Linked DNA regions of Homo sapiens. The protein of the gene in region 1 purifies or fractionates together with the protein of each later gene. This does not show direct contact. Each region holds a gene or a part of one and is shown in the gene's direction. Other genes may lie near its edges. The genes, in order: DCAF12L2, CUL4B, CETN3, PDCL3, PFDN1, VBP1 and FGF8.

Region 1 (4,120 bases):
CCATGGTGCACTTGGAGTTTCTGGGTTTGAGATAAGTTTGTAAAAAGAGCAGGGAGAATTGGGGGGAAACAGCAACAAAGTATTTTCATGATCTCTGATCAAGGACAGTTAACTCACCACCTGACTTCTGCAAACACGCTTAACAAAGACTTTTTTTGTGGAGGACGATTGGGGCCTGTGCAGACCTGGTATCAGCCACCAGCATTTCAGTGCAAGGTATTACTGTGGAATTGGGGGCTTGCTTTAGGATTGACTGCCCTAAAGCTTTAGAGCAGGTGTGGATCATGTAACTTCTCAGACTGCCAAACTCATGCTTTGAATATCCACACTCTCACCATTTTGCCATTTAGTCACTTTGCAAAGTTCTTTATCATCTGTGCCTGTGGAAATCCTGTGCATTCCTCTGAGTACTGTACCAATGCCCAAGGGGGCCCCCACACCAAGAGAGGGCTCTGCCAAGATTCCTATGACTGAAAGTTTGGGCTGACCTTTCCGTCCCAGGAGAGAGAGGGAGGTACCCCTCTCCTGGACCTCTTCCCCTTCACTCCACCCGCCCTGGGCTGAGTTCGAAAGAACTCAATGCCTTACAGAAAAACCCTTCTCTTCACCCCTCACCCCCATGTCTCCACCCCTATCATCACTGCAGCCCTGGATGCTCCTGAGGCTGCTTTCTGACTAAAGGGTCCCTGATACCACCCGGGTGGAAAGCAGGGCCTAGGGAACTGCATTTGGAACGCAGTTCAAATGCTCAGGGATTCAGGTGCTCAAAGACTTCAGTTTGAGAAGGGGAAAAAAATTATTTGGTGGAAACTGTTTAAGACATCAACCCAGGAGCTGAAACTGGAGAAGCTGCAGGTCTGACACGAGGGTAGAGGTCTCCCTGACGCTGCTGAACCCCACACCCCCCCACCCCCGCACCCGATCCCTTGCCAAATTCAATGTATAATCTAAGCGAAGGGTGTCCCAAGATTACACCAAGCGCACACTGGTTTCTCCAGGCAGACCGTGGCTCGGCCTCCTTCTAGCCCCGTGCTTGATTATATCTTAGGTTTCAGATTTTACTGAAGTACGGATTTTAAGAAGGGTAGTTAGCTGTTGTCCTGAGGGTAGCGAAACAACGCATGTCTGATACTGGGGACCTAGGGTGCTGGCCCTCCGCGACTCTGCCCCTGCAGCTCCGCTACCCCCTTCTCCCCTCCGCCCCCTTCCAGCCTCCACCCCGCGCGGCCTCCGCTACCCGGCAGGCACCCCACGCCAGCCCAGCAGCTCCTCCCACTGCCTCCGCCCTTCACACTCGGGCCCCAGCGTCGTCCTCCCCCCACACTGACTTCGCTCCCGCAGCCATCCAGACAGACACTCTTCCCGCTCTCGCCTAGGTCTGCACCGCCACTGCCGCCCTTGCCGCCGCGCTTCGCCCCGGCTCTGCTACGTCAGGCCGCGCATCTCTGGCCAGGACGACCGCTGCCGCCGCCGCCGCCGCCGAGCCTCAGACTGAAGTCTGGGCGCCCGCGATCGCACCAGCTTCTTGGTCTTAGAGATCCTGAGCTCTCGGCTGACGCGGAAGCGCAGCCATCCCCACCACCGCCGCCACGGCCAACACGGGTGCCACGCGCCGCCACCGCCGCCGGGCCGCCGCCGCCGCCGCCGCCGCCGCCGCCGCTGCTGCAGATCGCCCGCCGCCCACCATGGCCCAGCAGCAAACAGGTAGCAGGAAACGGAAAGCGCCCGCGGTCGAGGCGGGAGCCGGGAGCTCGTCGTCGCAGGGTTTAGCGGCGGCGGACGGAGAGGGGCCTCTGCTACCCAAGAAGCAGAAGCGGCCGGCGACGCGTCGCAGGCTGGTGCACTATCTGAAGGGCCGGGAGGTAGGAGCGCGGGGCCCAGCCGGGCTCCAGGGCTTCGAGGGCGAGCTGCGGGGCTACGCCGTCCAGAGGCTGCCCGAGCTGCTGACGGAGCGCCAGCTGGACCTGGGCACCCTCAACAAGGTGTTCGCGTCACAGTGGCTGAACGCCAGGCAGGTGGTGTGCGGCACCAAGTGTAATACGCTGTTTGTGGTGGACGTGCAGTCAGGCCACATCACGCGCATCCCCCTCATGCGGGACAAGGAGGCCGGGCTGGCCCAGGCCCACCAGGGCTGCGGCATCCATGCCATCGAGCTGAATCCCTCCAAGACGCTTCTGGCCACCGGCGGCGAAAACCCCAACAGCCTGGCCATCTACCAGCTGCCCACCCTGGACCCCCTGTGCCTGGGCGACCGCCATGGCCACAAGGACTGGATCTTCGCAGTCGCCTGGCTGAGTGACACCGTAGCTGTGAGCGGCTCCCGCGACGGCACCGTGGCTCTGTGGCGGATGGACCCAGACATGTTTAATGGCAGCATTGCCTGGCACAGCGAGGTGGGTCTCCCAGTATATGCCCACATCCGTCCGAGGGATGTGGAGGCCATCCCCAGGGCCAGCACCAACCCCAGCAACCGCAAGGTACGGGCCCTGGCCTTCAGCGGCAAGAACCAGGAGCTGGGAGCGGTGTCCTTGGACGGCTACTTCCACCTGTGGAAAGCCCGGAGCACACTATCCAGGCTCCTGTCCATCAGGCTGCCCTACTGCCGAGAGAATGTGTGCCTGACCTACTGTGATGAGTTGTCCCTGTACGCTGTGGGCTCTCAGTCCCACGTCTCCTTCCTGGATCCGCGCCAGCGCCAGCAGAACATCCGGCCCCTGTGCTCTCGAGAGGGTGGCACAGGCGTGCGGTCGCTGAGCTTCTACCAGCACATCATCACTGTGGGCACCGGCCATGGTTCCCTGCTCTTCTATGACATCCGCGCCCAGAAGTTCCTGGAGGAGAGGGCCTCTTCCAGCCTGGACTCCATGCCGGGGCCCGCAGGGAGGAAGCTCAAGCTTGCCTGCGGCAGAGGCTGGCTCAACCAAGATGACGTCTGGGTGAACTACTTTGGTGGCATGGGAGAGTTCCCCAATGCGCTCTACACCCACTGCTACAACTGGCCGGAGATGAAGCTCTTTGTGGCTGGGGGGCCTCTCCCTTCAGGCCTCCATGGGAACTACGCAGGCCTCTGGAGTTAAGGATGGACGCCTTGTTCTCAAAGTGCACAGGTTTACCTTTCAGTTCCGCCTGACTTTCCTTCTTCATGCTGCATTTGTGCTTTTAACTTTGTGTGGCTTTTGTCTTCCAGGTGGAACCAGTCCAACTTACGTGTGCTTAATGTATTAGGCAGAGAAAGAAAGAGAGAGAGCGGGAGCGAGAGAGCACAAGTGGTCCTTTCGGCAGTCAAAACTTTGGCTTTAAAACTCTCATTCACGTTTCCCAACAGCAGTATATTTTTGCCTTCTCATTCAAAGAGTTTTGGCTAAACCTTAATTGTGTTCTGTCTTTCAGTGATTCACATACCCTCCTTCTTTAGGTTGATGTAGTCATAGTCTTCACTACTATTCAGTACGTTAGTTTTATCAATATTGCAATAGTGTTCAGATCTTTTACACATGTTAGATGTGTGGTGTTTTGGGGAAATGTGAGCTACAAAGCATCTTTGGGGTTGTTTTGAGGAACTACCCATCATTTATAGCCTTACTCTAATTACAAAATGCAGTTCAGGTTCTAGATTGCCACCATTCTAGAGTGTGGCACACACCATTCTAGGGCGTGATTCATTTGGATGTTGGAAACTCAATGTCTGTTGTTTGTATAGTGTTGATGTGTAAAATGCTTTAAAAATATGTTCTGTTAGTTAGAAATCTTACAATGTTGTTCATACTATTAATCAACATTTTTGGTTATTCAGTAAAACTTTACTATCCTCAGGCCCTCCGTGTTCTTATTTAAAGCCGCTGTATTATGGCCTGCTTTTCTATGCTACAGATTTTCAGAACTACTCAATTCTGGTCTATATATGTGGTAGTGCAATCAGGGAGGTATTTTTGGGGGTATATGGGGTACACATCTCTTTAAATTCAGGTAGCTATTTACAGTGAAAAGCCAGTTGTGGCAGTTGTGCTCAGAGTAGGTGTTGATTTTTTATTACTGTATACATGGATAATTCTGGATCCAGTATGTGATGTGTTGCAGAAAAATAAATAAAATGTGTTCATCATCTTAGCAATTAAGTGGC
Region 2 (3,500 bases), 5.6 Mb from region 1:
AGTACTTCAATTAAGTACAATTTAGAAGAACTCTACCAGGTATGTATTAATATGCATAACCAGATTTGATTAACATAAATTGAGGTGGGATGTATATGGATTTTGCTTTCTGAAATAGGTTCTTAAGTAGACTTTTGGTTCCCTTCTAATTTTAGTTTCTCCATTAATTGATGAACTCTATAATTAGACCACGTATTCTCACATAAACCATGGGTACAGTCATACCAGTATAAGTTGTGCTTATATTTGACCCTCCTGATAAGAAATTACAGTTACGTGTACCTTGGTGTAATAGAAGTTCTACCTATAATGTAATCCTATAGCATGAATCCCAAAGATGATTTCTGGTGACATGTCATTCTATTGTGATAATTGTTTCTTAGTTGTGTTACCTACCCATAGGAAAGGCCTCAAGACATGCAGATATTATTCATATCCTTTATTCTACCTCCTTCTTAATAGTAGACTTTGCCATTTCTTTTTCTTGCTCTTTACATTTTTCTAATACCTGGGCTACAAGACGCACCTTAGCCCAGAAATGAGTAGCAGTTTGTAGTCCAGCAGCTTAGTCTGAGGTTCAGATTCTTTACTTAGCAAATGGGTCCTTACACTTAAATATAATTTTAAGGGCAGTTCCTAAGGGCAATCCCTTGCTACCAAGAAATTTTTCCCTACTGTGTATTTGACACACAACCAATTCAAGAAGTTACTTTCATTAGAGTGTCAGGGATTTGGTGTTAAAAGATACTTCAGGCCGGGCACGGTGGCTCACACCTGTAATCCCAGCACTTTGGGAGGCCAAGGCTGGCAGATCACCTGAGGTCAGGAGTTCGAGACCAGCCTGACCAACATGGAGAAACCCCGTCTCTACTAAAAATACAAAATTAGCCAGGCAATGTGGTGCATGCCTGTAATCCCAGCTACTCAGGAGGCTGAGGCAGGAGAATCGCTTGAACCCAGGAGGTAGAGGTTGCGGTGAGCCGAGATTGCACCATTGCACTCCAGCCTGGGCAACAAGAGTGAAACTCCATCTCAAAAAAAAAAAAAAATATATATATACTTCAGAGTACAATAGCTTGAATTTTTGTATTGATGAGTACCTTGTAAGAAATTATGTTGGTTTTATTTATCAGTATTTGTATATTTTAGTTGCAGAGCTAGTATGGTGATGGGTAAACCTGGATTAGGAGTCAGAAGATGGGTTTGGGATCTAGTTTTGACTGCTGTTACCCTCATAATCTTGGGCCAGGTACTAAAGCCCTCTCAGTTTTTTTTCCTGTTTTTTTAAGAGATAGGGGTCTTGCTATGTTGCCCAGGCTGGTCTTGAACTCCAGGGCTACAGCAGTCTTGTCACCTCAACCTCCCAAGGTGCTGAGATTACAGGCATGAGCTACCAAACCCAGCCGTCACTCTCAATTTAAATTTCCTCCTCTCTAAAGTAGAGGAAATAATAGTTTGCCCTACCTGTCTCACAAGGTTGCTGATAAGAATCAAATAAGATATTTGTGGAAAACGCCTCCAGGCACTATAATCTTACAAATATAAGATGGTATCACGAGTCAAACTTTTTTACAAGCCACATTATAGCTTCTTCACTTGTAGTATGACAATTGAGATCACCAGTTTCTGTTGCTGTGAAAATTAGTACACGCAAAATACTCAAATCAGTGCACAACACATAGTAATAATGCCGTGTAACATTATAAGCATTATAATGCTATGCAAATGTCGGCTAGTAGTTGTAGTACTAAGCTATTACTTAAGAATAAGCCCATTTCATATGGCTCTTTTGGCGTATTATATATGCGTCTCTTAAAATGTACAACAATAAAAGCCAAAATATGAAACTGACTTGGAAAGGCCTTAAGAGAGCATGTGGTCCAATATTTTTTCTTTGTGGTGTCCATGACAGCCTGCAAAGGGGATTCATCTCGTATTATCTCATATAAGCATTATGGAAACCCTTTCTGGGGTACGTAGGGTAGTAGTTACTATCCCCACTTTTTTTTTTTTTTTTTTTTGAGATGGAGTCTTGCTATGTCACTCAGGCTGGAGTGCAGTGGCGTGATCTCGGCTCACTGCAACCTCCACCTCCCGGGCTCAAGTGATCCTCTTGCCTCAGCTTCCCAAGTAGGTGGAATTACAGGCGCCTGCCACCACGCCCTGCTAGTTTTTGTATTTTTAGTAGAGACAGGGTTTCACCATGTTGGCCGGGCTGATCTCGAACTCCTGACCTCAAGTGATCCACCCGCCTCCACCTCCCAAGGTGCTGGGATTACAGGTGTGAGCCACCGCGCCTGGCCTATCCCCACTTTATTGATGAGGAGACTGAGTCTCAGAGAAGTTGAATAACCTGCCCAGAGTCACATATTGGCAGAGCAGGGGCAACTCAAACTGAGATGCTGGATTTCTAGTTCATTGCACTTTTACTCCTGTACCACCTCACTAATATACCCTGGTACTTTGAATACCACTGTAGTGCAGTGTTTGAAACAATTAAATTGTTTTACTTTAGGGAAAAAGCTCTTTATAATTTTAGTAGTATTTTTATCTGTGCATGCATAAGTGGTGTTTATTTGGATAGTATATGGTGTTTATTTGGATATGCTGGTATACAGCATATTTAATTTCAATAATATTTTATATATTCCATATTTGTAACAAATGTTTATTGTGGTTATTAATTAACCCTATTTACTTTACCTTGAATATTTTTCCAGAGCTTTTGATTTGAAAATACTTTTCCTGATACATTGATTCTGTTAAATCTTTTTCTTTCAAGAGCATAGAGCTTGCATCTCTTGTTTTTGTTTTCTTGTACTTCGTAAGTTTTACCTGCTGTTGTTCAGTTGCATTTCTTTAGCCTAGTCACAAGTCTTATAACTTCACTGTTTGCATTTTTCATAATACCTTACTGCTTTTGCTATAATGAATTCAAAAGCATTGGTTTTTAGCTCTTTTACTGTTTTTGACCTTAATTTTATAAATGTTCCTTTGGATTGTTCTCAGAAAGATTATTTTGAGATGTTCAAGTTCAAACAGGAGGATAAAGGAGGTAAAGCTATTTCATATAATCTGGACTTCAGGTGCTTGTTTGATTTTGACTCATTGAAACGTAATTAGAAGTACTCTCTCAATCTACCTGAGTGGGAAATAAAAACATAAGAAAAAGTACTCTTCTAAAATTGAAATAATGTGGAAATATGTAGTTATACAAAAGTTCTCCAAACCCCTGTCCCACCCTCTTTCTCTGAGGTAAACACTTACTGGCATATATCTGCTTAGAACTTACTTCTGCATGAAAAAACATTTTGCTTTAAAGCTTTAAGTATGGAAGTCCCTAGTGTGGGTTGCATGTACTGCCTACTAAGTTTTTAATTTCTATAAAAGAACATGCTGTTCTAAGTACACTTGCAGTAAGCAAACATTGTCTTTTTAAAGTAATTTTAAATTAGAATTGGACCTGAGTTTTAAAATTATCTTTCCTTGACAACCTTGAG
Region 3 (3,500 bases), on another chromosome or scaffold:
GCTTCATAGTTCCCTGTCAGCTTCTGGAGGGTGCATTTTTCCTAACTCATAGCTTATTTCTGTGAGGCATACACTATTCTTTCTTTGACTGTATTTCTGATGGTATTCTCCCACCCCAGCTCTCTTTCTACTTCCTTTCCAAATTCTGTATTTTTATTTTAGAGCCCAAGTAATGATTTACCTTTACCTAAATTTTTCTTATTAGTAATAATTTTTACCATTGTGAAGGATTTTTTTTCAACACTGATTTGGTCTTTGTTTTAATAATAAATAGTATTTTGTGTTATAAAACATTTGTTCTGTTTCAAGTATAAAAACTGACTAACATAGTTATCAAAACCGGTTTTCTATGTGGTTTCTAGAACCAGTGCAGTATATATTCTTTTCATTCCCTATGACCATGTTTTATCTCCTCAACATTTTTTAATTGGTTAATTTTTTCTAACTGTTCATTATGAATATTCTCAAACAGAAAAATTGTCAGACTAGTACAATGAACACCATTGTACCTTCTGCCTAGATTTAGTAATTAGTATTTTACCGCATTTGCTTTACCTGTCGTGTGTATATTTTTTTCTCAATCATTTGAAAATAAATTTCATATATCAAGAACTCAGTCTTTAGGCCAGGCACCATGGCCCATGCCTGTAATCCCAGCACTTTGGGAGGCTGAGGCAGGTGGATTGCTTGAGCCCAGGAGTTCAAGACCAGCCTTGGCAACATGGTGAAACCTAATCTCTACCAAAAATACAACGATTAGCCAGTCTCATAACCCGGTCTCTAAATTAATTAATTAATTAATTAAATTTTAATAATAAAACAAAAACTTGATCCTTTAATATTTTAGCATATCCATCTACTAAGAACAAGGATATATCTTTCATAAAGCTATGATACCAATGTTACACTTAAGAAAGTTAACAATAATTTTATAATATCATATAATATCTTTCTCATTTCGGTTTTAATGTATTCCAGAATAGGAAGCCTGGTGTCTGTTTTGATATATTACGCAACACTTATTGTGGTGTTGGCATTCACTAGCCACTTAAAAATGTTTGATTCAATGGAGTATTTTCATATAATACCTTCTATGGTAAATAAGAGTTAAACAATCTAAAACATCATCTCATAGTTCAGTGTTTTCAGATGAAGGAAATGAGATGCAGAGCTGTTCTGTGCAGAGCTGTGACTAGAGACCAGGTCTTAAGTCTCAGTGTAGTTTTCTTTTGGCATTATCAAAATTATCATTCATAATTTATGCATTGTTTAGGTATGTATTAAGTCTTAGGGCTAAATGCTAAATACTTACCAGAAGTATCTTCTGAACATTTTTCTTAATTGATACGTGCGCATATGTCGGGTTTTCAAAATTATATTCTATAAGATTATCTGATTTCTTATTTCTAGGTTGCTGTCTTAAACATTATGTTTTATAAATTGGAGATTCTTACTATATTTATAATTTTGGCAAACTAAAAATTAGTCCTTATCCATGATTATTTTCTGCCTTTACATCTATATAGTTACTGGATTACTTTGGTGATTAAGATTACATCTGTAATCTTTTCAAATTGCCATTTTTATTGATACCTTTGAGGTATGGTGACCTGGTTTTAATTATTCTTTAACATAGGCTTTTAAGTATATAAAAGTTCAAAAAATAATAATTTAACTTCTTTTTATAATTTTATTATATTTTCATTCTTTAGAAATCTAATTTACATGCATGATATGTTCAAGCTTACTTGTAAAGGAAGGATTTGCTAAATGAACTAGTAGAATAAAGATTATAAAGAGGGTTGTTTAAAGAACCTTGAAATGTCAAGCATTTAAAATGTTTTAGCAAGTATGTACAAATATGACTGTGATTGACTTTTTTGGTAACATTATCTTTTCCCCAGTTAATATTATAGAATACTAATTTGTAATGTTTATCACATTATATGTATTTTTGCATCCAAGAAGTTACATTTAATAAACATGTTCCACTTCCTAACAAAGAAGTAAAAGCAAAAAGCCATGTCTTAATGTAATAATTTTGCATAATGTAAAATTTTTTAAATACTTAGTGTAAAATGGTAGTCGTGGATTCTGAAAAAATAAAATGTTTATATTTCTGACTATTTCATTTTCTTTCTTACCACAGTAAACCAAGAGGAGTTCATTGCTATTATGACTGGTGACATTTAAAGAATTACAAGGATAAACACTAAGAATGTTGCAGTTACCATCTTATATTCTATTTTTGTGCCTGGAGCCATGTGAAAAAAACCAACTTAGTTCTTTTATCCTAAAGGACCAAAAATAAGCATCTTATATATCTGTATTTTACTACTGTTAAGTTTCTTTGTATGAACTGTGTTGTTAGTACTCAGATAGTTTAGCTTTGTATTTATAATAGAGCTTTTATATAAAGTTTTAAAAATTGAATGTGTGATATGTGTTCTTTGAAGGTTTTTTAATTTAACATTTATAGTCACTTTTTAGTGCACACATTTTCCAGACTTTCGTTAATAAAATATTTATTTTATTAGAATTTTAAAGTTTGGTAAATTTGTTTTTATTCCTAGTATCTGTTAACCCTCAAGAGTGGATTTCTTAAATCTTCCCTTTATAATTTTACTAGTTTCTGAAACAAAAATTGAAATACAATTAGCAATAGAGTGGCACATTTTTCCATTACCTAACATTTCATCAATTTTGACATTCTATATTTTAATACAAGCTGACTCAATATAAGCCTAATTCCTTTTTTAAGAGTCCTGTCTTTGAGTTTAGAAGGAATAAGTATTGTGCAGATAGACCCATTTATCCTTGTGTATTATGTTTCTTAACTTGGTATCATTGTAAGTATGAAAGTTAATTTTCTTCTGAATATTTCCTTAAACAAATTGAATGAATACAATTTGAATTTTCTAACTTCTTGACTGAGAGATTTAAATTTTGGAATTTTGATTTGTTAAGGTAATTATCACTCAATTACATGTCACAGTGATGAAAATAGAAAACTGTAAGCCACAGAAATAATTTAAGTCTATGTTTTACCTATATGAAGGAACAGTCTGTGATTCACCAGGAAATAGTAGAGACACAGTTTCCAAGTACTGGTGGGCTCTTCTGCCTTGTAGAAGTGTATGTTAGGGGGAAACAAGTGGTTATGGAGATCGATCATAGAAAAAAATAGTACCTATATGGATCCTTCACTCATATCTAGTACTCGGTGTTATGGGCTCTCCCAGGAACGGAATTGAGTTGTCTATTTCAGCAATCTTTCTTTAGAATTCTTGTTTTAAATTTTTAAGTTTAAAGTGTAGTATCATTTGAGGCGCTTTAAATGTTGTGAGCCTTTTAAGAGTATTACATTAAGGGTTGTCCACTAGAAATTTAACACAAAATCAGTAGGGAATACTATAGCAGTAGTGACATTTCAAACAGTTATCTAGGAAGCAAGTGTATATTAAGTCATTCTTGTATTGCTACGAAGAAATACCCAAGAC
Region 4 (3,500 bases), on another chromosome or scaffold:
TGGGCTTTTACAAGGATTGCCTTCTAGACGATGTGTGTGTACACGTGTTTGTGACGTAAGATGTTTCTCTCCTTGTTTTGTGCAGACGGCGGAGACTGGCTGAGTGGAAAGCAACTAAACTGAAGAATAAATTCGGAGAAGTTTTGGAGATCTCAGGGAAGGATTATGTTCAAGAAGTTACCAAAGCTGGCGAGGGCTTGTGGGTCATCTTGCACCTTTACAAACAAGGGTGAGCTGATCTTCCACTCCATCTATCAAATGTTAATTTGAATTTATGTCTTCAGGATCTCAGGCGTTACCTATATCAGAGGGTTAAGAAATTTTTTTTTCTGGGCCAGGCGCAGTAGCTCACACCTGTAATCCCAGCACTTTGGGAGGCTGAGGCAGGTGGATCATGAGGTCAGGAGATCAAGACCATCCTGGCTGACACGATGAAACCCCGTCTCTACTAAAAATACAAAAACAAAATTAGCTGGGCGTGGTCGCGGGCGCCTATAGTCCCAGCTACTTGGGAGGCTGAGGTGGGAGAATGGCATGAACCCGGGAGGCGGAGCTTGCAGTGAGCCGAGATTGCGCCACTGCACTCCAGCCTGGGCGACAGAGCGAGACTTTGTCTCAGAAAAAATTTTTCTGGTACTGAGTTTTTTGTGTTTTTTTTGCTGGTTTGCCCAAACCTTATTACTTAATTTTTTTATCTTAAGACTTTCAAGTTAATAATTTGTGACTAATATGAATGCCTTTGTTAAAGTATAGCAATGAAGACTATGCTTTTCTGTTTTTGAAAAGGAATTCCTAAGTTATTTATTCCTTTACAGGAACTCTGACATTTCAACATTCTATGTAATGAATTTATCTCATAGATGGCAAGGTTGGCCTTTACAGTAGTAATTGCCTGAACTGTGTGATACTGAGGGCCTCTGATTTTTCTCAGCTCTCCAGTCTTGTCTTAAACTGTAGAGTCCAGTGCTTATTTAGGAATTTCTTTTTTTTTTTTTTTTTTGTTTGAGACAAAGTCTCACTCCATTGACCAGGCTGGAGTGCAGTGGCATGATCTCGGCTCACTGCAACCTCCGTCTCCCAGGTTCAAGCGATTCTCCTGCCTCTGCTCCTGAGTAGCTGGGATTACAGGCGCCTGCCACCGCACTCAGCTGATTTTTGTATTTTTAGTAGAGACGGGGTTTCACCATCTTGGCCAGGCTGGTCTTGAACTCCTGACCTCATGATCCACTCATCTTGGCCTCCCAAAGTGCTGGGATTACAGGCGTTAGCCGCTGCACCTGGCCAGGAATTTCTTTAAAGCAGAAAACGTTTTCTGACATTTCATACTTTCTAAACCTTCAGCGTTTTCTCATTCAACCTTATAAGAAATGTATAGCAATTTTATCTTTTACATTGAAGCTGTTTTTCTGACTTGTTTTGTCAAATAAATTGGACTTTGGATTTGTGTTCTTCACTTTCCCTCAGCATATTAGGAAGTTTTTAAGAAATGTTAATTCAGCTGGGCATGGTGGCTTACACCTGTAATACCTGTAATCCCAGCACTTTGGGAAGCCATTGCGGCCGGATCTCGAGCTCAAGAGTTCAAGAGCAGCCTGGGCAACGTGGTGAAACCCTGTCTTTACAAAAAAAAAAAAAAAAAATCAGCTGGGCATGGTGGTGTGTGCCTGTAATCACACCTCCCGAGTAGCTGGGATTACAGGCGCCTGCCACTGCACCCAGCTAATTTTTGTATTTTTAGTAGAGATGGGGTTTCACCATCTTGGCCAGGCTGGTCTTGAACTCCTGACCTCATGATCTTGGCCAGGCTGGTCTTGAACTGCTGACCTCATGATCCACTCACCTTGGCCTCCCAAAGTGCTACTTGGGGGGCTGAGGTGGGAGCATTGCTTGTGAGCCGAGATCACACCACTTCACTCCATTTAGCCTGGGTGAAAACAAGACCCTATGTCAAAAAAAACATGTTAATTCATCTTAGCTAGCAGCAGAATTACTTGTGAAACTGTTACAAGGTTTTACTTAGGGTAGAAGGGTCATTGAGCTTTGTTCTGTATAAATGTAGGATCATAATTGCTTCTGTTTTCTATGTGTGTTTTATAGAATTCCCCTCTGTGCCCTGATAAATCAGCACCTCAGTGGACTTGCCAGGAAGTTTCCTGATGTCAAATTTATCAAAGCCATTTCAACAACCTGCATACCCAATTATCCTGATAGGAATCTGCCCACGATATTTGTTTACCTGGAAGGAGATATCAAGGCTCAGTTTATTGGTCCTCTGGTGTTTGGCGGCATGAACCTGACAAGAGATGGTAAGGGCTCTGGGAGACAGGCGGGGCAGTGAGAGATGGGAGGCGCATTTCTGTTGGAGAGAGTGTCTATTTCCTGGACTCCTGTTACGATGGTGGGTCAAGTTCACTTCTGCCTGTGTATGAGGACGGAAGCACGTTTAATCTCTCATCTTAGTTGCGTAATCAGGAACAGTTACAACTGGGCTCTACTGATTCTTAGTTCAAGGAAGGCGTGATAGACTTAAATATAAACATTTTTTATATTGGTGTGGAATATATTTTGTCTCTACAGTTGGATGTTTTTGTAGCTTGAAATCACAACATTCACTTTTGCTTTAATTCACATGAACACAGGGAGACGTTAATGTATGTATTTGTATTTTTCTACAGAAACATTCTCAGTTGAGTATGTTAGTAGCTTTTACATTTATTTACTTAGTTATTTATTTTTTGAGACAGAGTCTTGCTCTGTCACCCAGGCTGGAGTGCAATGGTATGATCTTGCCTCACTGCAACTTCTGCCTCCCAGGTTCAAGTGATTCTCCTGCCTCTGCCTCCCAAGTATCTGGGATTACTGGCACCTACCACCACGCCCAGCTAATTTTTGTATTTTTAGTGGAGACGGGGTTTCACCATGTTGGCCAGGCTGGTCTCAAACTCCTGGCCTCAAGTGATCTACCCACTTCAGCCTCCCAAAGTGCTGGGATTACAGACGTGAGCCACTGCGCCCGGCTAGTAGCTTTTATTTATTTTTTTTGAGACAGAGTTTCACTCTTCTTGCCCAGGCTGGAGTGCAATCACGTGATCTCGGCTCACTGCAACCTCTGCCCCCCAGGTTCAAGTGATTCTCCTGCCTCAGCCTCCCTAGTAGCTGGGATTACAGGCATGTGCCAACATGCCTGGCTAATTTTTTTGTATTTTTAGTAGAGACAGGGTTTCTCCATGTGGTCAGGCTGGTCTCAAACTCCTGACCTCAGGTGATCCACCCGCCTCAGCCTCCCAAAGTGCTGGGATTACAGGCGTGAGCCACTGCGCCTGGCCAGCTTTTAAATTAAATTAAAATTTTATTTAATTCTGCCTGTTAGCTCGGAAGGATGTGGTTTTTGTTTGATTGTTTGTTTTTTTGAGATGGAGTTTTGCTCTTTCGCTCAGGCTGGAGTGCAGTGGTGCGATCTTGGTTCACTGGAACCTCCACCTTCTGGTTTCAAGCAATTC
Region 5 (3,500 bases), on another chromosome or scaffold:
TTTACTTACTTACTAACTTACTATATTGACATCTTTACATGTCAATAAAAAAAATATTTTTTTTTAAATTTCGGTTTGGTTTTTTATTTAATTAGTCATTCTTTTTTAAAAAAATTTATTTATTTTTTAGACATGGGGCATTGCTATGTTGCCTGGGCTGGACTTGAACTCTTGGATTTAAGCAATCCTCACACCTCAGCTTTCTGAGTAGCTAGGACTACAGGTGCATGCCATTATGCCTGGCTGCCCCCTTGGTTTTATCTCCTGTTTTGTATCCTATTTCTGTGCCAGTGTGGATACTTAAGGTCTCCAGGATTCAGCATAAACTCTCAGGATGAAAGCCAATTTACTGCTGTCTTACATTCCTGAATTCCCAGTTTCACTTCACTTTGGACCTTTGTGGAATCCTTCCTTTTGTGTTAGTTCAACAAAATGTTAAAAAAAAATTTTTTTTTCCTTTGTTTCTAATCAGGAGTGTTCAGGGTATCTACTCTTCATTATGCCAATAACAGAAGTCTGTAACTCACTGAGCAGTCCACAATGTGGATGTGCCATAAAGTTTTAATCACTTCCTTACTAAGGAAGTGATTAAAGTAAGAAATAAATTCAATTTAAAAAAATTTTAAAAAAAGAAGTTCAATTTATTTCTACTTGCTTCCACGCTAAAAATTACGACGTAAAAATTCAGTAACTTTCCTCACCAGTGGAGTTAGGCAAAGAAGCAAGATAGGCTCATTCTTTTTTTTTTTTTTTTGAGATGGAGTCTCGCTCTGTTGCCCAGGCTGGAGTGCAGTGGCGCGATCTCGGCTCACTGCAAACTCCACCTCCCGGGTTCACGCCATTCTCCTGAAGATAGGCTCATTCTTATGTCTTTTCTATGCTGCTTAATTTGTGAATACCCTGAAACCTAAATGCTAATAGGATACGTTTTTAGACACCCTCTAAAAATTTCCCACCCAAAGTGAACTCGTCATAAGCATTTTGTTGTTTCTGAATAGCATATGTCTAGGTGACCATACTTTGGAAATTGTGTCCAAAATGCAGCAGTGCAAGTGATCTGGGATTGTGTTTTGGGCAGGTGAACAATGGTTTTGATTCATACTGAGTTATAAGAAAGTGGAAGTTGTACCAAACTGCAGGATGATTTAGAAAACGGAGTCTGATGTTTCTCAAATAATCAAAACCGAAAGTCTCAGAATTATGTTTTCAGATGGCATAATTACAAATAAATGAGGAAGTGAAATAGCAGGTTACAAGTCCTTGAGAGTGGACAGTGCAGAGGCACGTGGCACTGATTTCCAGGTCAAAGAAGAGGCCTTTTGCAAAGCATCAACTCGAATTCAGGTTATATAATCCTGAGTATTTTAAGCATGTTATCTGCATATTATTTGTCATGAGAGAATACTTTCCCTCTTCATGGTTTATTTTTCCTTATTGGTACATTTTGAACTCCAGAATTCTTTATTTACTATTTGGCTTTCCATAAACAATCAGGCAGAATGACTATGAGATTCTCTACATTGAGCAACTGTGTACATAATATTTGCTTATGATAAGACTTATATTATCATGATAAATCCTTTCTCTTCACATAGTATCTGATAATCCAATGCCCTTTTAAACAATAAGAAAGATGTTTTCCAAAGACTTTTTTTCAGAAATCAGATGTTTCTTGGAGCCTTTTCCAGTCTTCATACAATATATCTTTGCCATTTTTTAAATTGAGGACTAAACCAAACTTTCCATAAGTTTTTGTGTTTGAATTTTTACTGTGTAACTACTCTTTGAGGTAGACATTTGCATTTACCCAACATTCATCCTTGTTAAAACTTGCGTGGCTGAGATGTCCTTAGGTTTGTAGTAGTAAGTTGGCCAGCTTCGGTGGAATCTCTCTGGCCTTTGAAGTTGGCACAGTCCAGTATAGCTACCTCAAAGGATATGTGGTCATGGAAAAACGTGTTTTTGTTGTTGAGTGTTCTTGCTTTCTAGTAATTTTATTTTCTGCTCAAGAGATTTAGTATCTGTTCAGATACTTTATTTTTAAAGGCCACATAAGTAATGACTTGACCTCTAATCTTAGCTTTGAAATTTTCCCAGACACTAATAAAGATGATGTCTGATGACCTTTTATTTGAGAATAGTACTCATTGGCCAGCTATCAGTGCTACTTAAAAATGTATATTTTACTCAAAAAATTATTTCCATGGCTAAAAGACTTTCTCAGTAAAATCACACATGTCATGACATAATTTGGTGACTCTTGCACCTTGTTTTAGAATAGTTTTTACATAACATTACTGAGACTTAGTACTGTTCAAAACAACTCTTCTCTTCAAATACAAATATGAGTTAGTTCTGAGAAAAATATTCTGTAAACCATAATCTTATCTGAAATAGCACCCATCTCTTGGATCCAGTAAGAATATTTTAGACATGAAGGGTTCTATAGTAAAAGACCTGGAATTAATCCTTGTTTTGCATGAATGTGGGCTCTCTTTCCTGTAAATATACAGTAAGGTTTTACAAAGAATCAAGTTACTACTGAAGACTAAGATCATCAGTTGGGCTGGGCTGGGCGTGGTGGCTCATGCCTGTAATCCCAGCACTTTGGGAGGCCGAGGCGGGCAGATCACGAGGTCAGGAAATCGAGACCATCCTGGCTAACATGGTGAAACCCTGTCTCTACTAAAAAATAGAAAAAATTAGCCAGGCGTGGTGGTGGGCGCCTGTAGTCCCAGCTACTCGGGAGGCTGAGGCAGGAGAATGGCATGAACCCGGGAGGTGGAGCTTGCAGTGAGCCAAGATCATGCCACTGCACTCCAGCCTGGGCAACAGAGCGAGACTCCGTCTCAAAAAAAAAAATTATCTGGGCTGGCCGCATTAGGATATAAGCTTAATAATTAGTGGAGTAAAAGAAGTTCTTCAGATTTTATTAATATGTGTGGTAAGGCTTAGTTATGAAGAAGAGGGGACAAGGCAGTTTCCTTCCAGGTGTTGGGGCATAGCTAATTGCCCTTTTTGGTCTGTTTTTACTTGTCTTATATCTATAATAACGGACTCTCTTGATAAGAACCCACCTAGGCACAATGATGTTTTTGTGGGGTTGGCAGAGGAAACTGCATGTTGCTACCTTGATGTGTTTTCTCGTTTGACTTTTTGTTAAGAGATGATGTTTAGTTCTTTGTTGCTGAACTCTGTTAGTGCAAAGAGAAGAAAAATCTTGCTTAATTAATTGCAATATTAAATTGAAATATATTTTAGCTTCCTTAGACAGTCCTGAAAGAGATTTGCATAACTGGGGTCTTCCCTTGGTTCCAGTGGAGGGGAAATATTTCAGTTCACTTACTTGGGGCTATAAAAGTTTGTTCTTCCTTTCCCTGAAGCAAGAATTGTGAACATAAAGTCATAAAACAGTTTCAGTGTTAATTTTTAAAACTTCTCCATATTTCCACCCTCATCAGTGGTAAATAATGTGCCTGATGTAAAATGGAAAAAGTTGA
Region 6 (3,500 bases), about 29 Mb from region 1:
TTAAGAACGATCGTTACCTCATTTGAAAAGAAGAGCATTTATCAACATAAAAGTTAAGGAAGAAATACCCAAAGCTTAAAAGAATCACTAAATTATACTGTATCATAATGTGGTGTGTTTGGCATTCAGATGATTCTGTACATTTTTCACAGTGTGACAAGTGCACATACTGAGAAGGTGTCACTGTGCTTTGCCTGGCATTTAGCTGACTGTGATGTACATGTGTGTATACCCAATGCACACACCAGGAGTAGCTATGTGCATCACTGGATAGGGGATTGGTGTCTTCTATTTTAGAATGTAACTTTTGAATCCATGTTATTTTTAAAATTAGTTTTAAAATTAATCTATTTAAAATTTCATTCTAATCAAATGCAGAACCTATGAATCACCTCTGTGGAATATAGTCTGCTCTAGAAATGTTAAATAGCCATGGGGTATTTGACATAATAGAACAGAGCTTTGTCTTCATGGAATGGGCATTCCATAAACATTCACTAGTATATCTTAAATATTTTTATTAAGTATTTATACTTTAAATATTTTATGAATATTTTACTAAATATATTTTCTTTTGGTGAATATTTCTTTAAATATTTTATTTTTATAAATATTTATATCTTATTTTATCTCATATCTAAAAATATCTTAAGTATTTTATATCTATAAATAGTCCTCAAGAACACATTAGTAGAAAATGCAAAGTTAGTAAGACCGTGTCCTGTTGTTTATTTTTGCCTGCAAAATACTAAGTTACTCTTTTTCTTGTTCACAGGCTAAAAGGTCAGATTCCTGAAATTAAACAGACTTTGGAAATTCTAAAATACATGCAGAAGAAAAAAGTAAGTGCATTTTTGTTTGTAAATATGAGCAAGCTAGGATATGTCAGCAGAAACTCGTCTTCTTTGACTCTTTGGTCACTGATATTTGATCTGTGCTGTGGAATCCAGTCTGCCTTCTTAAGCACATACACTAATGTTATGATGTGCTTCTGTAGCAAATGTGGCTTTGTGGCCTTCCCCCAAAAGTCAAGTTTAATTCTAGGGCCCACACTTGGATTACTTTGCTTATCTTTAGTGCTTGTGAAACTTAAATGCAATTTGAAATTGTTTTAGGTGTACAAAGAAAATGTCTTATTCTGTGCTAGCAGCATCTAGGGTTTTTTCTTTGTTGTTGTCTTTCTCCCTAAGAATAAGGAGTTAGTCCAAGATTTATAGAGCTGGAACGAATCTTAGAGATCATCTGTTACAGGTTCTCATTTCATAGTTGAGGAAATGGTTATGGAGAGGTTATACTCGACCATTGTCTATGTAGTTAGTTACTGGCAGAACTAAATTTGAGAGTCTTCTAAGTCTTAATCCAGTATTCATTAAATAAAAGCAGGTTGTAAAGATTAAATCTCATAAGCATATTGTATTTAAAAGATTGTGTGTATGCTTATGATTTTGCTTGACTGGTAGAATAACTATTTCTAGTACATTTTAATATGTGGTGAACTTTGTAAGACTTCAGCAACTGATTGATTGGGCATGAAGCACCAATGAAATAATAGAAGAATGGCTAATTCTTACAATAATGCCTTCTCTGTATGTCAGGCACTCGGGGGTGTGTGTGTGTCTGTGTATACTCAGTGCTTACCACTGACTTCATAGGTGTAGGGACTGTTGTAATCCTCATTTTACAGATGAAGAACCTGAGATATAGAAGTTAAGTGAGATGCCAGATTTGTACAGCTAGTGAGTAGCTGAGCCAGAGTCCATACCCAGCCACCTGGGTCTAGCATTCATTTCTTTTACCACTACACTTAGCCTGCATGATGGTACTGTTTTAAATGTCCTAGGTTCAACTGTGCAATCTCTCCTTTATAACCTTGGTATCAAACTGGCCTGTTTATGGTACTGTCATTTTTTTTTTTGTTTTGAAGGAGTCCACCAACTCAATGGAGACCAGATTCTTGCTGGCAGATAACCTGTATTGCAAAGCTTCAGTTCCTCCTACCGATAAAGTGTGTCTGTGGTTGGGGGTAAGTAAATGTTATAGCCACAGCTGATATATTTGTAAACCAGTGTGTTTTCTGTAGCAAACACACTGGTTTTGCTAGTATTTGCTAGTATTTTAGTAGTATTGCTCGAGATATGTAAAGTGTTCATCTCCTTTTGATTGTGGAAGGGACAAAGGGACAGAGTCCAAGTGGTTCATATTAGAAATTGACTAGAATCAGAAGTGCGATGAAGATCGCAGTAAAAACATACTGAAGTCTCTCCCAATCAAGATAAAACTGATCAAACAAACCCTGCTTCTCTTCCAGTTAGTGCTTTATCTCTCTTAAATATAATGGAGGAAGAGCAATAGAAGTAAAATAGAAGGTACTGCTGAACTTTAGATAAACGCTTCTTCCCATAAGAGTTTAATAATTCTAGAAAGATCCCTCTCAATTTAAGGGGAAAAAGAGTATTGCAAAAAGTTTGAGGTTAGAGTTTATTTTTTAAAACCATGTATTTCAGTTTTAGATGATTTCATTGAGCTTATCTGTGATTTACCTATTTTGCTCTTCTCAGTCCTCTGACTATCCAGCTACCTGTCTGTGGATCTTGTTACCTCAGGCAAGTTCTCATACAAAGTAGCAAGCCAAGTGTACTTCTACCAGCTGTCCTACGGGGAGGATTTCCCCTAGCTGCTGTCCTGTAGGATCACTCTGGAGAGGCACTCTAGATTAGCCCAAGGAGGTTTGCTCAAAGTTTGTACAACATTTATATTTCACTCTACAATCTGCATTTCAGTATTTATCTTTTATAATTTATCACTAAGGCTTTTTAAAAAATAACTTTGAAGCATAGCAACTACACCTGAGTGTCCAAGGATTCAATGATTTTCTGTATTCAGTTTTTTTGTAGAAATTGCATGACCTTTTGATTCACAAATTCAAGTGTTACTTTATTTCAGGAAAGATAATTTCTGTTGTGTACTTGAATGTGACTTTTGCCCCATTTCTTTTATTATCTTTTGGGAATAATAAATATGCATATGTTCGATCTCCTTTATCTGTTTTCAGTACCTATCATGTTCTCTGTTTTCAGTTATTCGATGTGTTTCATTCTGTGTGATTTCCTCTGGCTGCTTCCCCATGACTTTGTGTTTTCCCTGGTAGTTATTCTGTTTTGTTGCTTTTACTCTGTCTTTTGTAACTGTTCTTCTGTTTCTCTTTCTCTTCATTTTCTTTGCTGAGCTCTTCTTGCTCTTTTCATGTTTTTCTTCTTTCATTCCTCTTGAATGTTTAAATCCTCATTTCACCACTCATAGACTGGCACTTCCCACAATCTTCTCCATCTCAGTAAATGGCAGAATCTTTTGCCTGGTTGCTCAGAACAAAAATCTTTGAGTCTTCTTTGACTCTTCTTTATTTTATATCTCTCAACCAGTCCTTCAGCAAACCCCACTGGTTCCTTCTTCTGAATAGATTGAGAAGCCAACTATCTCTCACTTCCTTACTGCTGTTACCA
Region 7 (4,144 bases), on another chromosome or scaffold:
GCCTGGCTGTGCTGCTGGACTAGGGCTGCCGCTAATTTTGGCCTAATGGCTTCCTGGGACCACACCAAACCCTCCAGCCCTACCCCCAGGGGAATGGAGGGTCACTGGGGAAGGGGAGGTTGTAAGTGAAGACAGCAGTCTGGTAGGGCATCACCTGCTCCTCACAAGGCACCTGTCCCAGAGCATCTCTGTCCACCCAGGCTGCTCCCACAGAAGCAGCATGGGGGCTCAGGGTTTCCAGAAACCTCAGGGGGGAAGCCACAAGGTGGGGGGCTAGGAAAGGCTTAGACAAGTGCCTACCTTCTCCTATGCCCCAAGCCCAGCTGACCAGCCCCTGCCTAGAATACAGTAGGTGTGTAAATACCTGTGAAATGAAAAACGAGTGGGGCTTTGAGGGGGAAAGGGCTGGGTGGCCTGGATGGAAGTCCCTTCCCCCAGTAAAAGCTACTGAGAGTTTTTTTGCCCCTGCTGCCTGCTGAGGTACGGGGACAGTGGGTCCTGCCAGGGACCTCCGGACTCTCTCTTCCACACAGGTGGCTCGGGGTGCTCCTCAAGCTTCAGGCTAGTGTGTGTGTGTGTGTGTGTGTGTGTGTGTGTGTGTGTGGTGAGGGGCACAGGGGAAGGGGTGATAGTGATAATGGGATGGGGGGAGGGGGAGGCATTTCTGGCTCCCAGGGCCTCCTCGGGAGAGTGAAGGAGACTGGAGAGACCGACAGGACGGGGCACGCGGCCGAAACAGGGGAGCGGGGTCCGGGTGGCACCGGCACGCACTGCGCGAGGGCCGGGTGCGCAGCCATTCGCTGCATGGTTAGCGGCCGCTCCCAGGGGCCCGGCGGGACACACAGTAGGTGGCTCGGAGACCACTGCGTAGCCGGCGGCGGAAGCGGCTGGGCCCGGAGGCGGAGACCCAGACCCGCCAGACTCGGGCGCTCCAGGCGGTCGGGGAAGCCCAGGCTCGGGGTCTCCCGGCCCGCAGAGTTTGCAGCCCTAGGCGCCCCCATCCCCGCGCGTCCGGGACCGGGGAGCGCGCGAGGGGACAGGCCGGGGATAGGGGGAGGCGCCCAGACCGGCCGCCCCCGCCCCTCCCGCGGGTCCCCAGACCCCTCCCCTAGCCCAGACCCTCAATCCCGAACCCGTCGGCCGCCCCTCCCCGGCCGCCCCGCCCCCGCCCCGGGCTGCATCCAGGCCCCAGTTCCCAGCCGGGGGCTGCGGGCTCCCGCCGCCCGCCCCGCGCTCCCCCCTCGCGCCCGGTGCGGCGCCCCCCGCCCCCACCCCTCCCCGCCCTCCCACCTCCCCACCCACCCCGCCAGCCCGTGACCCTCCCGCCCGCTCCGGCTCCCGAGCAGCCAGCGGCCACCGGCTCCGGCAGCGGCGCACAGCGATTCGGTGCGGCGCGGCGAGCACGACGTTCCACGGGACCCGCGGAGCCGCGTCGTGATCGCCGCCGGCCTCCCGCACCCGCACCCTCTCCGCTCGCGCCCTGCTCAGCGCGTCCTCCCGCGGCGGCCCGCGGGACGGCGTGACCCGCCGGGCTCTCGGTGCCCCGGGGCCGCGCGCCATGGGCAGCCCCCGCTCCGCGCTGAGCTGCCTGTGAGTACCGCGCCGCCCTGCCCCGCCACCCGCCCCCCGCGCCCCTCGCCTCACCCGCGCCTCTCTCTCCCGCCCGCTTTTGTCTCCCACAGGCTGTTGCACTTGCTGGTCCTCTGCCTCCAAGCCCAGGTGAGGAGGGGTGCGCGGAGGCGGGGGCCGGGCGCGCCGGTGTGAGACCCGGGTGGGCAGCGCCGGTCGGGGGCACCGGGACTGACTCTGCGGCCGGCGCGGGAGGGCTGAGGGCACCTTAGAAACCCAGCCCCGAGCCACCCCGAGGAGGGAGCTGAGGCACAGAGAGGTAGCACCCCTCCTGAGGTCACACAGCGAGTGAGTGGCCAGGATAGAAACGAAGGTCTCGGAGCCCAGCACTGTCCCCCATGCATCCTCGCCGGCTGGGGGCATAGGGAACACCCAGCCGCCGAGGAAGGGGGCAGCCGCGGCCAGGGGATGGATGTTCGATGCCAGGGGAAGCCGGGTGACTGCAGCAGAGACCCTCTCAGCGCCCCTCGGGGGAGGCTTGTGGCCGATTTGGCCCAATGATCGGGTGCCCAGGTTCCCTGCACTCTCAACATTTGCTCCGTAAATTTGTCTTTATAAATGTCAGGGGTCGGGGAGGGCTGCCTCCCTACTTAAAAGCGCCCTGCTCCTCTAGGAAGGCCCGGGCAGGGGCCCTGCGCTGGGCAGGGAGCTCGCTTCCCTGTTCCGGGCTGGCCGGGAGCCCCAGGGTGTCTCCCAACAGGTGGGTCCAGCTTCTCCCTGGGGCTCGTTCATCCTGGGCTGGGTCTGCCCGACTTGCGTGGGTGGGGGATGGTGGCCTGGGCTGGCATGTTGGGGGAACCCCCAGCACCTGCTGGCGGCTTGGGGCAGTGAGGGGGACGCAGGGTGATGGGGCCACTCGGGCCCCTGGGCGGAGTAGCATTATAATGGTGTATTGTGTATTTTTCAATTTCCTAAAGGTAACTGTTCAGTCCTCACCTAATTTTACACAGCATGTGAGGGAGCAGAGCCTGGTGACGGATCAGCTCAGCCGCCGCCTCATCCGGACCTACCAACTCTACAGCCGCACCAGCGGGAAGCACGTGCAGGTCCTGGCCAACAAGCGCATCAACGCCATGGCAGAGGACGGCGACCCCTTCGGTAAGGCGCGCTGAAGGTAGCTTGTGGGATGCGCGGCGCCTGGACCACCAGTCCCAACTGCACTGGCCGGGGGCCTGCAGGGTCCCCAGCTCAGAAGGGAAGGAGTTAAGGCAGAAAGGTGTCTTGAGGGTCAGCTGGGGAAGAGAGGGCTAGGGAAGGGGCCTCGGGGAGTACTTGGCCACAGGTGCCCCCTTCCCTGCCCAGCAAATGAATGAATCTAGGAATCTCCCTTTACACCTCCCCCCTTCATACACTCCTCCCCAGCTGCAGGTGGAGGCAGGGGGTTCAGGGGGAGGGGGCCTAGGTTTAAGGCAAGCGCTTGAAAGAGGATATGTCGCCAGGGCCCACAAAAGGAGAGTGGGAAAGAGAAGGGAGAGAAATCCCCTCAACTCTCCCAGTTGGAAAAGGAGGTTGCTGGGAACCCTTAAATACTTTAATCGGATGGGTCAATTTACACGTGGAAACTGGGCTTGGAAGGGGGCTCTCCCTGCTCCATTCCCTGGGGAACCCAGGCGGCTGGGGCAGGGCTCCCGGCTCCCTGTGGGGTGGCAAGTGCGGAGAGCTACTGCCGGCAGAGAGGCTGAGGACTGATTGATTTCTAAAACATTCAATATTCCTGCCTTGAAACGGGGCCAATTTCCAGAGTCCTGGATGTACCAAGAGAAAAGCAAGCCCTCTGGGCGGCTGGTGTTGTTTTTAGAGAGCGATTATTGTGAGTTTAAAAACCTTTAAATAATGACCACGTTAAACAAGCATGAAAGGAGAGGGGAAGACTCTATTAAAATGTAATAAAAAGGTGAGGCATTTTAAGAGCTAAGAAGAAAAATGAAGAATGATATAAAACAGAAAAAGAACGAGCTTTTTTTCAGATGTGGAGTTTGAAAGGAGTTGCAAGTCTGTAAATGTTAAAAAAGAGGTTCAAGATTGTTCTCTCTGAATCTCTGGAGAGACCCCTGCGTCTGGCAGAGCGATTAAAACTCTTCTTACTTTCACCTTTTTTAACATTTCCTGAATACTTTCTCCTCTTCTTGAGCCAGTTTGGGGGATCGAGTATGTCTCGCTGCATTTTTTCTGCATCGACGTAGCTGACTTCCCTTCAAAGCTGGAGGAGACATAATTTTCCTGGGATAAATCTGTCACTGGGGTGGAAGAATAGGTTTGAAAATGTTAAGCTTTCCAAAAGCCCGGTCGGGAGAGCTGCCGTAAACTGCGGCCCCAGCTCCCCAGATCGGAGCAGATTCAACCGACATGGGAGAGAGCGGGCTTTCTGGGGTGGGGGTGGGGGCGGCCTGCCTGGTGGCCGAGCTCCCCTACTGGGCTGGCAGAGCAGGCCTACCATCCCTTTGTCCCTCCAAATTAGCTGCTTGCTGCCCTTCTCAGCTTCTAAGGAGAGGAGACGAATGCCTGGCTCTTCCAG

What was found.
Region 2: the proteins of DCAF12L2 (region 1) and CUL4B purify together in Homo sapiens (affinity purification with mass spectrometry; one large-scale study listed by BioGRID and IntAct). This does not show direct contact.
Region 3: the proteins of DCAF12L2 (region 1) and CETN3 purify together in Homo sapiens (co-immunoprecipitation; 3 studies listed by BioGRID and IntAct, with this or other methods). This does not show direct contact.
Region 4: the proteins of DCAF12L2 (region 1) and PDCL3 purify together in Homo sapiens (co-immunoprecipitation; one large-scale study listed by IntAct). This does not show direct contact.
Region 5: the proteins of DCAF12L2 (region 1) and PFDN1 purify together in Homo sapiens (co-immunoprecipitation; one large-scale study listed by IntAct). This does not show direct contact.
Region 6: the proteins of DCAF12L2 (region 1) and VBP1 purify together in Homo sapiens (co-immunoprecipitation; one large-scale study listed by IntAct). This does not show direct contact.
Region 7: the proteins of DCAF12L2 (region 1) and FGF8 purify together in Homo sapiens (co-immunoprecipitation; one large-scale study listed by IntAct). This does not show direct contact.

The regions. Positions count from the first base shown.
Region 1 is NC_000023.11:126,163,490-126,167,609, reverse strand, and holds DCAF12L2 (DDB1- and CUL4-associated factor 12-like protein 2), read left to right. Parts: upstream 1-1,320; 5' UTR 1,321-1,685; coding exon 1,686-3,077; 3' UTR 3,078-4,111; downstream 4,112-4,120.
Region 2 is NC_000023.11:120,554,463-120,557,962, reverse strand, and holds part of CUL4B (cullin-4B), read left to right. Parts: coding exon 1-39; intron 40-3,500.
Region 3 is NC_000005.10:90,392,757-90,396,256, reverse strand, and holds part of CETN3 (centrin-3), read left to right. Parts: intron 1-2,149; coding exon 2,150-2,193; 3' UTR 2,194-3,500. UniProt on the Homo sapiens protein: Plays a fundamental role in microtubule-organizing center structure and function. As a component of the TREX-2 complex, involved in the export of mRNAs to the cytoplasm through the nuclear pores.
Region 4 is NC_000002.12:100,569,493-100,572,992, forward strand, and holds part of PDCL3 (phosducin-like protein 3), read left to right. Parts: intron 1-85; coding exon 86-229; intron 230-2,097; coding exon 2,098-2,306; intron 2,307-3,500. UniProt on the Homo sapiens protein: Acts as a chaperone for the angiogenic VEGF receptor KDR/VEGFR2, increasing its abundance by inhibiting its ubiquitination and degradation.
Region 5 is NC_000005.10:140,282,602-140,286,101, reverse strand, and holds part of PFDN1 (prefoldin subunit 1), read left to right. Parts: intron 1-3,500. UniProt on the Homo sapiens protein: Binds specifically to cytosolic chaperonin (c-CPN) and transfers target proteins to it. Binds to nascent polypeptide chain and promotes folding in an environment in which there are many competing pathways for nonnative proteins.
Region 6 is NC_000023.11:155,226,460-155,229,959, forward strand, and holds part of VBP1 (prefoldin subunit 3), read left to right. Parts: intron 1-775; coding exon 776-842; intron 843-1,924; coding exon 1,925-2,023; intron 2,024-3,500. UniProt on the Homo sapiens protein: Binds specifically to cytosolic chaperonin (c-CPN) and transfers target proteins to it. Binds to nascent polypeptide chain and promotes folding in an environment in which there are many competing pathways for nonnative proteins.
Region 7 is NC_000010.11:101,773,315-101,777,458, reverse strand, and holds the start of FGF8 (fibroblast growth factor 8 isoform F precursor), read left to right. Parts: upstream 1-1,344; 5' UTR 1,345-1,558; coding exon 1,559-1,590; intron 1,591-1,682; coding exon 1,683-1,719; intron 1,720-2,242; coding exon 2,243-2,329; intron 2,330-2,546; coding exon 2,547-2,727; intron 2,728-4,144. UniProt on the Homo sapiens protein: Plays an important role in the regulation of embryonic development, cell proliferation, cell differentiation and cell migration. Required for normal brain, eye, ear and limb development during embryogenesis.